Regions from separate parts of the Homo sapiens genome. Here regions 1 and 2 are each reported to be linked to region 3. The links are microRNA targets in miRTarBase. Many come from high-throughput screens and were not tested one by one. Region 3 holds a microRNA gene; each other region holds the end of a gene's coding sequence.
What was found. Region 3 holds the annotated microRNA hsa-miR-3162-5p (UUAGGGAGUAGAAGGGUGGGGAG, at 1,744-1,766, shown strand). A microRNA usually pairs through its seed, bases 2 to 8, with sites in the 3' UTR of a target mRNA and lowers its output. Matches are read on the target gene's strand: a 7mer-m8 pairs with bases 2 to 8, a 7mer-A1 pairs with bases 2 to 7 and ends in A, and an 8mer does both.

Region 1: the mRNA of RTKN is a reported target of hsa-miR-3162-5p. Seed matches in the 3' UTR shown: 8mer at 640-647.
Region 2: the mRNA of MYBL1 is a reported target of hsa-miR-3162-5p. Seed matches in the 3' UTR shown: 7mer-A1 at 1,581-1,587.

What each region holds. Positions count from the first base shown.
Region 1 is chr2:74,423,563-74,426,670 of GRCh38, reverse strand. It overlaps RTKN (rhotekin), which reads left to right. Exons shown (of 12, transcript NM_001015055.2): 12 at 97-836. The coding sequence ends at 428. It overlaps WDR54 (WD repeat domain 54), which reads right to left. Exons shown (of 10, transcript NM_032118.4): 6 at 2,689-2,816; 7 at 1,696-1,796; 8 at 1,434-1,596; 9 at 1,180-1,254; 10 at 916-1,101. The coding sequence ends at 970. Among named protein-coding and RNA genes, the nearest start is that of WDR54, 3.4 kb to the right of the region's middle. RefSeq lists an enhancer at 1-231.
Region 2 is chr8:66,562,019-66,565,126 of GRCh38, forward strand. It overlaps MYBL1 (MYB proto-oncogene like 1), which reads right to left. Exons shown (of 16, transcript NM_001080416.4): 16 at 157-2,807. The coding sequence ends at 2,679. Among named protein-coding and RNA genes, the nearest start is that of MYBL1, 50 kb to the right of the region's middle.
Region 3 is chr11:59,593,893-59,596,892 of GRCh38, reverse strand. It overlaps MIR3162 (microRNA 3162), which reads left to right and starts at 1,735; the gene lies at 1,735-1,816. It overlaps OSBP (oxysterol binding protein), which reads left to right. Exons shown (of 14, transcript NM_002556.3): 8 at 2,638-2,883.

The DNA.
Region 1 (3,108 bases), not on the chromosome of region 3:
TCCTCCTATTACAGTGACAGGTGATAGGGCTGGGTAGGCTTGGGGCCTGAGCTCTGACTAGCCCAACCCTCCCCCAACCCCTTCCTGGTGCCACAGCTATTGAGCCGCTGGATGACATCGCAGCGGTGACAGACATCCTGACCCAGCGGGAGGGCGCAAGGCTGGAGACACCCCCACCCTGGCTGGCAATGTTTACAGACCAGCCTGCCCTGCCTAACCCCTGCTCGCCTGCCTCAGTGGCCCCAGCCCCAGACTGGACCCACCCCCTGCCCTGGGGGAGACCCCGAACCTTTTCCCTGGATGCTGTCCCCCCAGACCACTCCCCTAGGGCTCGCTCGGTTGCCCCCCTCCCACCTCAGCGATCCCCACGGACCAGAGGCCTCTGCAGCAAAGGCCAACCTCGCACTTGGCTCCAGTCACCAGTGTGAGAGAGAAAGGTGCTGGCATAGGATCTGCCCAGAAGAGAAAATGACCCATGCGCAGTTGGGCTCTGGATACGGCGCTGTCTATAGCAAGTTGGCCAGTCTGGCCTCCTGTTCCTCTGCTGGACCTGGGGTAGGCTGCAGGGGTGGGCAGAAGCCCCTCTTAAATTGTGGTTGCCATGGTACCGAGGGACTCATTCCTGGGGCTCGCTGGGACCTCCCTAAACCCTTCCTGGAAGAAAACTGGAACCAACTCTGCCCTACCTCCCTGCACTAACCAGCTTTGAGGATGGCACTGAAGAACCCTTGGAGCAAACATACCTCCCTTGTGACTCCCACATCAACCATTAAAGTTATTTAACAGCAGCCTTCACCTGGCTCCTGAGGACAGGGTGCCTCTCTCTGCCTGGTCTAGACCTGCCTCACATCATCCCTGGAGCATAGTTCACCAGCTGTGAAACATGACTGTGATACTGAGTAATCAGACAAAGGCTGGGTGGAGCGGGTACTTTATGAATACCACAGGGACAAAGGAAGGCTGCTCTTCTCACACACTGCTGAATCTCCGGATCTCCGCAAGGTCATAGCCAGTCACAGCAAAGGAGTTGCCTGAGGAATCACAAAATCGAGCACCACACAGCTGGGTGTCGGCGACACACTCACCATGACAGTGTTCCACCTGGGGGAGCAGAGGGCTCGTCAGGGCCTGCTGCCCCATGCTTGGGCCCCCCCATTCCACCCACCCCATGACACATACCTCAATGTAGCCACTCTCTGGGTTTCTGCTCAGCTTCCAGATATGCACAAAGGTGTCCTCACCTGCAGAGAGTAGCTGTGGAGGAGGAAGAGGGGGAGTCAGAATGCCCTGACGGGACAGCTATAAGCTGGAATCCCCAGTCCAGGTGCCCCAGGGGAGGGGGCTACACTGAGTTGCAAAGACAAGCCTGTGGTGTTCTCTCAACATTCCACTGCCAGGAAAAAGGGTATGTAGGTACAGAGGAGGAGACTTACCTTGCCCACCTCAGAAGCCAGGTCCAGGGCGCAGATGGCCCGGGCATGGGCATTGATCTGGACATGTAGATTTCCTGTAGTGGCCTCATATAGATGCACTTGTCCGTTCCCATAGCCTGCTGCTATGATCCCCTGCCACAGCTGCACAGAGGGGCACGGAACTCTGCAAGGGTGACACCCAACTTTGTTTTGCCCAGATCAAATCCTACTCCCCAGCCTGAAGCTATCTCAGGAAGCCCTCTACCCTTTCTGCCTCACCTACCCAAATCCTGGAATGCGGGTCAATAATGTGAATTCTGGCCCTGACCGCCAGACACACAGCAAGCCTGAGTCATCTGCCGTCACCATGTCAGCCACACAATCCTGAAGGGAAAGGCAAGATCAACCCTTCCCTTTCTCCCCTGCTATGGTCCTGTATACAGGGCAGGAGGGGAAGGGAGGCAGTGTGTGCATCTTTGCCTCTCCAGGGAAAGGGCAAGGTGTGGAGCTCTCACTAGCTAGACCCATCAGAAACCACCCCTACCACCAGGGTTCCCTTGGGAAGCATGAACTGCTTTCCTTGAATTTCTTCATGGAGTCCCATCCCCCAATAACATTAGGAGGGGGTGCATAATTGCCTCACTGGATGGATGATAAAACTGAGGCCACAGTGTCGTGACCTTCTGGAGGTCTCGTAGTGAACCAGTCACAGTCATGACTAGACCCTGGGCCCCTGCACCCCCAACACCAGGCAGCCAACACAACCTATGGGCCTAGCCCTATGCCAGGTACAATGGAGAATATGAATAAGAAAATATACACCCTGTTCTCAAGAGGTTTGCAAATTACTTGGGGAGACAAGAGTTGTCTTTTGAGGGCAGTGCCAATTCAGGTTTCAGCTAAGAGACATCAGTGGGAGCTAGAATATGGGGAAGGCTTCCTGGAGAGGATGGATGGCACTGGAGCTGGGCCTGAATAGGTGGGACTTGCCCTAGAGAAGGAAGCTGCACATTTCAGAGCTGGAAAGTATCTTAGAAACCATTTGTTCCAACTCCTCATTTCACATCAGTATTATAAAGTCTTAATTAACTATAAAATACTACATAAATGTAAAGTATCTCTGGCTTTATCACTGAACCTGGTTGCTGAAGACTAGGAAAATGTAGATTTGCCCAAAGCCATCCACCTGTTTAGTGGCAGAGCCAAGACTCAAAGCCAGGTCCCCTGCCTCCCAGGGTGGGGAAGGCTCCCAGATGGGTAGGGGAAGTCCACTCACCTGTCCCTGGGCAGGCTCGGTGGCAATGTCTGTGATTGGCATCTGGTGCCCAGCCAGCTCCTCGCTCAGTACAATGTTGGGACCCTTTGCTGGGATGTCAAACACCAGCACCCGGCCTGACCACGTTCCTGTATCCAGAACCAGTACTCCAGTGATGACTTCCTGACCCTCCTGGGTCTCCAGCCACCATACTCAACACTTACTCCATCCCAGAAACCTTAGTAACAAAACCCCCTCTCACTGCTCCAACGGCCATGCCCCTTCATTCACTAGCCTTGTCTTATCCCACCCTGACCCTCTGAACCCTTCCATGGTTTACTGGAGTCTCTGATTCCACTCCACTTCCACCCTTCCCTCTAACTTTCCACAATTTCCTCAGGCCCTCATTATTCTCCTGGCCACAGCCCACATGCCCCAGCA
Region 2 (3,108 bases), not on the chromosome of region 3:
ATGAGGCTCTATAAAGGCGCAATGTTGTATTTATTGGTAAAATCACCGTAAAGAGAGTTCTAAATGAGAAAAAAGGCCTAAGAACAGAATGTTAAGTCTCTAAGGATTCTATCAGTCCTTATAAAGCACAAAACCAAGTGAATGAGCAATGCCAAGTCAGCTTGTACACAGATGCTTTATTTTGGATGTTAATATGTCAACATTGTATGCAAGATTCTCTTACAATGAAGTTTTCCATATATCACAAAACTCAATTTAGTCAGGGTAATTGCTGTATTAATGTGAAAACCTTACAATAAAATGCAGTATTATGTATGTGTAGTCAGTTTCCATGCAAGTATGGCTGCTACATGTTATGTCTGGCATTTGTATAACATACTGAAAGAAACTCAGAGGAACAAAACAGTATAAAGGTGACTTAAGATGCCTGACATGTTTAAGATAAAAAATCTTGCAAAAAGCAACAAAGCAGTTAACTGAAGGATTCAACCAGTACCAACCCAAATATGTATTATGTCCAATAAGCCCAGACTTATCCACAATATATTACCATTTAGGATAATTTAATGCTCAAGAAAAAATATGCTTTAAAAAATATAGCCTTACAAGATATTATACTTTGGTGATTGCAGACTATGTATATCCAGGTAAGGGCTACATTAAAAACAACAACAACAAAAAACCATTATGTGCTATTAGTTCAAGGTAACTGAAATGATCCAGTATGAGTTTGCTACAATCATTGGTTTCACTAAGTGAAATTTCTGTGAGAAGTTCATTAATTAGAAAGCAATCAACATACTTAAACATGCTAAGAGGATTCAAATTGGTTTATCTATTTATCAATAAGGCATAATCTTAGTACCATACATTTTCTTCACTTCTCACTATATATATATATAAATATATATATATATAAAATATGCAAAAACTAGCAAGTAGATTTAAATAGCTTAAAACCCTTTTAGGTCTACTGTTCAAGAGCTAAGCATTAAAATACTTAGTATTTCCATTTCTATTAACATACAAACAGAGCAGAAAATCTTAACCTGCTTTCATTTTGTTTTATAAGGCATAGTAGTATTTTGGTATTTGCAAGAATTTGCCTGGTAATGGTTGATTCCATTTAGTTAACTTGAGAACTTGCCATCATTTGTTTTTTATCTTTTCACACAGTGCAAGTGGTGGTCGCTCTTTCCTTCTCTCGTAGCAGCAAGCCGATTCTGCTATTTTCTATAGCAGCATACTTCAGGAGTGGAGAGGGAGAGAGTGTGTCAATTATAAATAATTCAAACTACAGTGTACAATTCTATTTACCTGTCAGTGTTTAAGTTGACAGCACACCATTATATGACTGAAAAAAAATTACATATAATCTCTACCACAAAAGCAAATAAAAATTCTTTCAAGAAGAAATAAAATAAGTGCAAACACCTAAAACAGGCAACTGAAGCAACTGTTGTAACCTGTAGAGAAACACAAAACATTTAAAAAAGGACAAAATATTTTTATAAATAAAAGATAATGTTCTCCACTTCTGAAACACTGAGTAAATATAAACTTCTAAGTGCAGACTGTTTTTAGGGACCAAGGTACCATATTATTTTTTAAACAAAATGCAAAAATTTCAAACACATATACAAATCACCAGATTAATGTATATGACCACCCCCGATATAATTTAAAAAGAAAATATTAAATTATTATTTAGTACATTTTTAGAACTACTTTATAACCAGCATGATTTAAAGGGCATAGTGCAACATTTAGGTAGATGTGACATACAGTATAGATATTGTATTCTTTGCAGCTATAACTTACTACTGTTTCATACTTAAAGTCAAAATTATTCTTTACTGTGTTAGCTGTAATAACAGGAAACAACATTGGCTTCTAGGCACCCTGTATACGTATAAATATCTACATTTAAGCTTTAAAAATAAAAATAAATTATAAAAACAGACTTCTTTCCAATTTACAAAGTTCTCCTGCTCCTACATACTGTACAATACATTCAACAAAACTCTCAGCTCCTCTGAGATTAAGAAAATACTATTTACTAATAAAGAAAAAACTCTTTTTTGAATGCTTTTTGTTTTCAGTACTATGCTCAAATAAATACATTTAACACTGTAGTTAATTTTACTGCTTCTGAAAAAAAAAACAAAAAATTAGTAGTGCAACTTTCTATCCTTCCTTTAAATTCCTTTTCAATGTGTTTCTTTGTAAATGGTAGCCTAAGTAAATCAGCACATGGGCAAAAGTACTTCATAAAATCATGTGTGCTTTCCATACATAGACTAATTTCAGAAATCATATATACTCATACACCTATCTATAACAAAACTGCAGCATCAAGAGAGTAGCAACATATATCTTGTGAAGAAAATATATGAGAATTTACTTTTAGAAATCCATGAACATTCTATTATTTTCCCATCTTGTTCTTTAAAAACAATTTTTAAAAATCTCATCTCTTAAAAAATAAACTATGAAACTATCTACCCCTTAAGTGACTTACTAGCTTTCTGCCTACTATATAGAATAGAAAAAAGATGCTGTATTAAAAGGGCTATCTTACAACTTTAAAAACAACTAATTGAGAAAAATTTCACTGCAACCTAATTTAGTAGAGACTGCAGTAAGGGAGTGGGGCATTTCATCAATTTTAATAACAATTACAGTATGAGAGCTCTTGAAGTACTACTGGTAGCTGTGTAAGTACTCAGATATCTTCTTGCTTGTTCAGTCATAATAAGTTGGTCTTCTGTCTTCCCATAAACCACTGTTTCCCATTCACAATTTGACTAGAAAGGAAATATTAATAGTGACATGAAAATTATTAAAATAGCTATCTATATCACAATTAGACTCTTAAAGTCAGTTATTTTAACTGATTAGATATTTTATAAACAATAATTATAAAAATGTTTTAACAATGGCACTGTATTTTTTTAATAATAATGTTTTAAAATATATACTGAAATATTTTTTATCAAGTTTTTAAAAAGTCAATTATTTTAGCTATCTATATTGCTTACAGGCCTATGGAGGCAGTTTAAAAGTCTTGTCCCCAATAATTCCCCCCAAATCAAATGAGTCTTAACA
Region 3 (3,000 bases):
TTTCAGGCTTCCGTGGCTACTGGAGTCTGGCTGGGCTTCACTAATGCAAGATACCAGTAGGAGGTTATAGCCGTGGGAAGTCTCTCCCTCTATGCCCTCTTGAGTGGTGCTCTGGCGCACCTACGTGGCTCTAGTTTTCACTGGAGAGGCCTCCCCTGCCTTGATGTTTTACATTCTCCTGATCCTCCTCTCTTGGACCCCCACCTCTAGGCTGTAGTAATACTGCTGCTTCTCCCCATCTCTCCACCCTACCAATGGTTATGGCTTCCTGTTGCTGCTAATCTCTGGGTTGTCTTTTTTTTTTTTGGGTGCCTAATTTTTCATCAGCTGTATAGCTCCCTGCTTCCTTCTACTTTAAATACTCAGACTCATTTCTTTCCCTGTTTGGCTTTTGAGTAATAAAATGACCATTATAAGAAGCTTGGCACTTTTGGAGAAACTGGTTGTTGATGGGCAAGGCTGTGTGTGTGTGAAAAGCAGTGATAGCAATGTGCTGATTCTAGTCCCATGCACTGCTGGTATGTCTAGTACCACCAGTGGAGTACACTGCCTGTCCCCAGTTTTCCTCAAAATGTATGGAAATGTTACTTCGTATTGTCTAAATTCTGCCACGGACAGATTTTATTGGGTGTAGTTAATAAGTGCCCTCTTTAAAAAGAATCGAGGATTATGGCTTTTGCAGCGCGCCACCCCTCAGTGTGCATTTGTGTCATCATACTGCTTGTCTTTCAGTGTAGGGAAGAGGGCTCTGGGGTATGGCACACTGTTTTGGTGGGTCCTATTTCTCAAAGGATGAGTGTTGTTGGCTCTGTGGCTCTGTGTTCACTGGAAAATGTTCACAGAGAAACATTTGGGATATTTCTCAGAGAAAAAGCAGGCTCTAGTTTATGAATTTTATTTATTTATTTATTTATTTATTTATTTATTTATTTATTTATTTATTTATTTTTAGACAGAGTCTCGCTCTGTTGCCCAGGCTGGAGTGCAGTGGCATGATCTTGGCTCACTGCAACTTCTGCTTCCTGGGCTCAAGCCATCATCCCACCTCAGCCTCCCAAGTAACTGAGACTACAGGTGCACGCCACCACACCGTGCTAATTTTTGTGTTTTTTTTTTATAGAGATGGTGTTTTGCCATGTTTCCCAGGCTGGTCTCAAACTGCTGAGCACAAGCAATCCGCTTGCCTCAGCCTCTCAAAGTGCTAGGATTGTAAGCATGAGCCACCACACGTGGCCAAGTTTATTACTTTTAAAAATGTATGAATGTATAGAAACAAACTGAAAATGTTAATAGTGGTGATCTCATTTCAAGAAAATTTTTTCCTTGATACTTTGTTTTCAAAGTTTTTTACAGTTAAAAATTATACGATATTAATTTCATGATTGAGCGGGCGGTGGGGGGATAGCAAATATTAGGGTAATATGTAGCTCAGAGATTGGTGGGTAGAAGGGTGAACAAAAATGCCAAAAGAGATGGAACATCAGAAAGAAAAGTGTTGTGTTTTTTTTGTTTGTTTAAGTAAAGCGTTGCTTAAGGCCAGAACCATTCACTAAAAGGGAATTTTTTCTTTCTTCTTTTGTTCTCTGGACTTAGAACTCAGGCTAATAATATTTAGACTTGTTCATCTATATTGTTAATTAAATAAGCTTTATGGACTAACTTGGGAACCTGACTTGTTTTATAGTGAATTTTTACATAGTAAAATCATTTAAAATTTCAAAGTTAATTTTGAAGCTGACTTTTTTAGGGAGTAGAAGGGTGGGGAGCATGAACAATGTTTCTCACTCCCTACCCCTCCACTCCCCAAAAAAGTCAGCTTCTCTTGTTAACTTCTCTCTATCCAGTGGGTAGCATAGGGTCTGGCACACATGGGTACTCAATAAATATTTGTGGAATGAGTAAGTGAATAAATGAATGAATGAACATCTCCCCCAACAGAAGCCCCCAATTCCTGGCACACACACATAAACACACACATGCTTGCTTTATCCAGTACTTGGTCGCCTTAAGCTGGCTTCAGAATTAGAAAGGTAAGAGCATGCACAGCCCCCTCTCAACCCCCATCATGAGCACTTCACTCCCAGAAACACAATTATCCAGCCTCAGAGGAGAAATCAGAATCCTGGCCTGATGCAGAACTGAACTGAGATTTAGCAATTGTTTTGTCCAGGGTGGAAACTAACTTTTATAACTAGTCAGGATATAGCTGTACTTATAATTTACTACTGTTTCTTTCATTCTCCAAGAATTTTAAATACCTGATTTCCTCTCTGGGTATACTTGTGCTAAAATACATTGCATTTCTTTTTTAAAAAACTTATTCATCCAACACCTATTTGATGATAGTCTTCTGTGGGCCAGTCACTGATGGATCTTGGGTATGTAGCACTCAACAGAAGAGGCATGGTTCCCATCTCAAAGAGCTTACAGTTAGTGAAATGAAAACAGTGATTTCTGCCACTCACAGACATGAACAGTTGACAAGGAGAATGGGTTGTTTGCGGGTTAAATATTAGAGCCGCTCTACTGAGCAAAGCCCTCTTTTCCCAGTGATTTATTTCCTAAACTGCAAAAAAAATTAAACTGTCTCTTATAGATGAGTGAGCATAGTTTTTATATCTGTTCTTCTCCTTACAGGTAAACTTTAATGAGCCCTTGTCCATGCTTCAGCGCCTTACTGAAGATCTGGAATACCATGAGCTGTTAGACCGAGCTGCAAAATGTGAGAATTCTCTAGAACAGCTCTGTTATGTTGCAGCTTTCACCGTGTCCTCCTACTCCACTACTGTCTTCCGCACCAGTAAGCCATTCAACCCACTGCTTGGGGAGACCTTTGAGCTGGACCGATTAGAGGAGAATGGGTACCGATCCCTCTGTGAACAGGTAAAGGAACCTCAGAACCATAACGCATTTCCTTTCTGAAGAAAGAGATGATTTTTTGGTTAATCCCCTGGGTCTTATGTTTGCAGAAATTCTAGTCCCTGTCATCCCAGCTTTTAT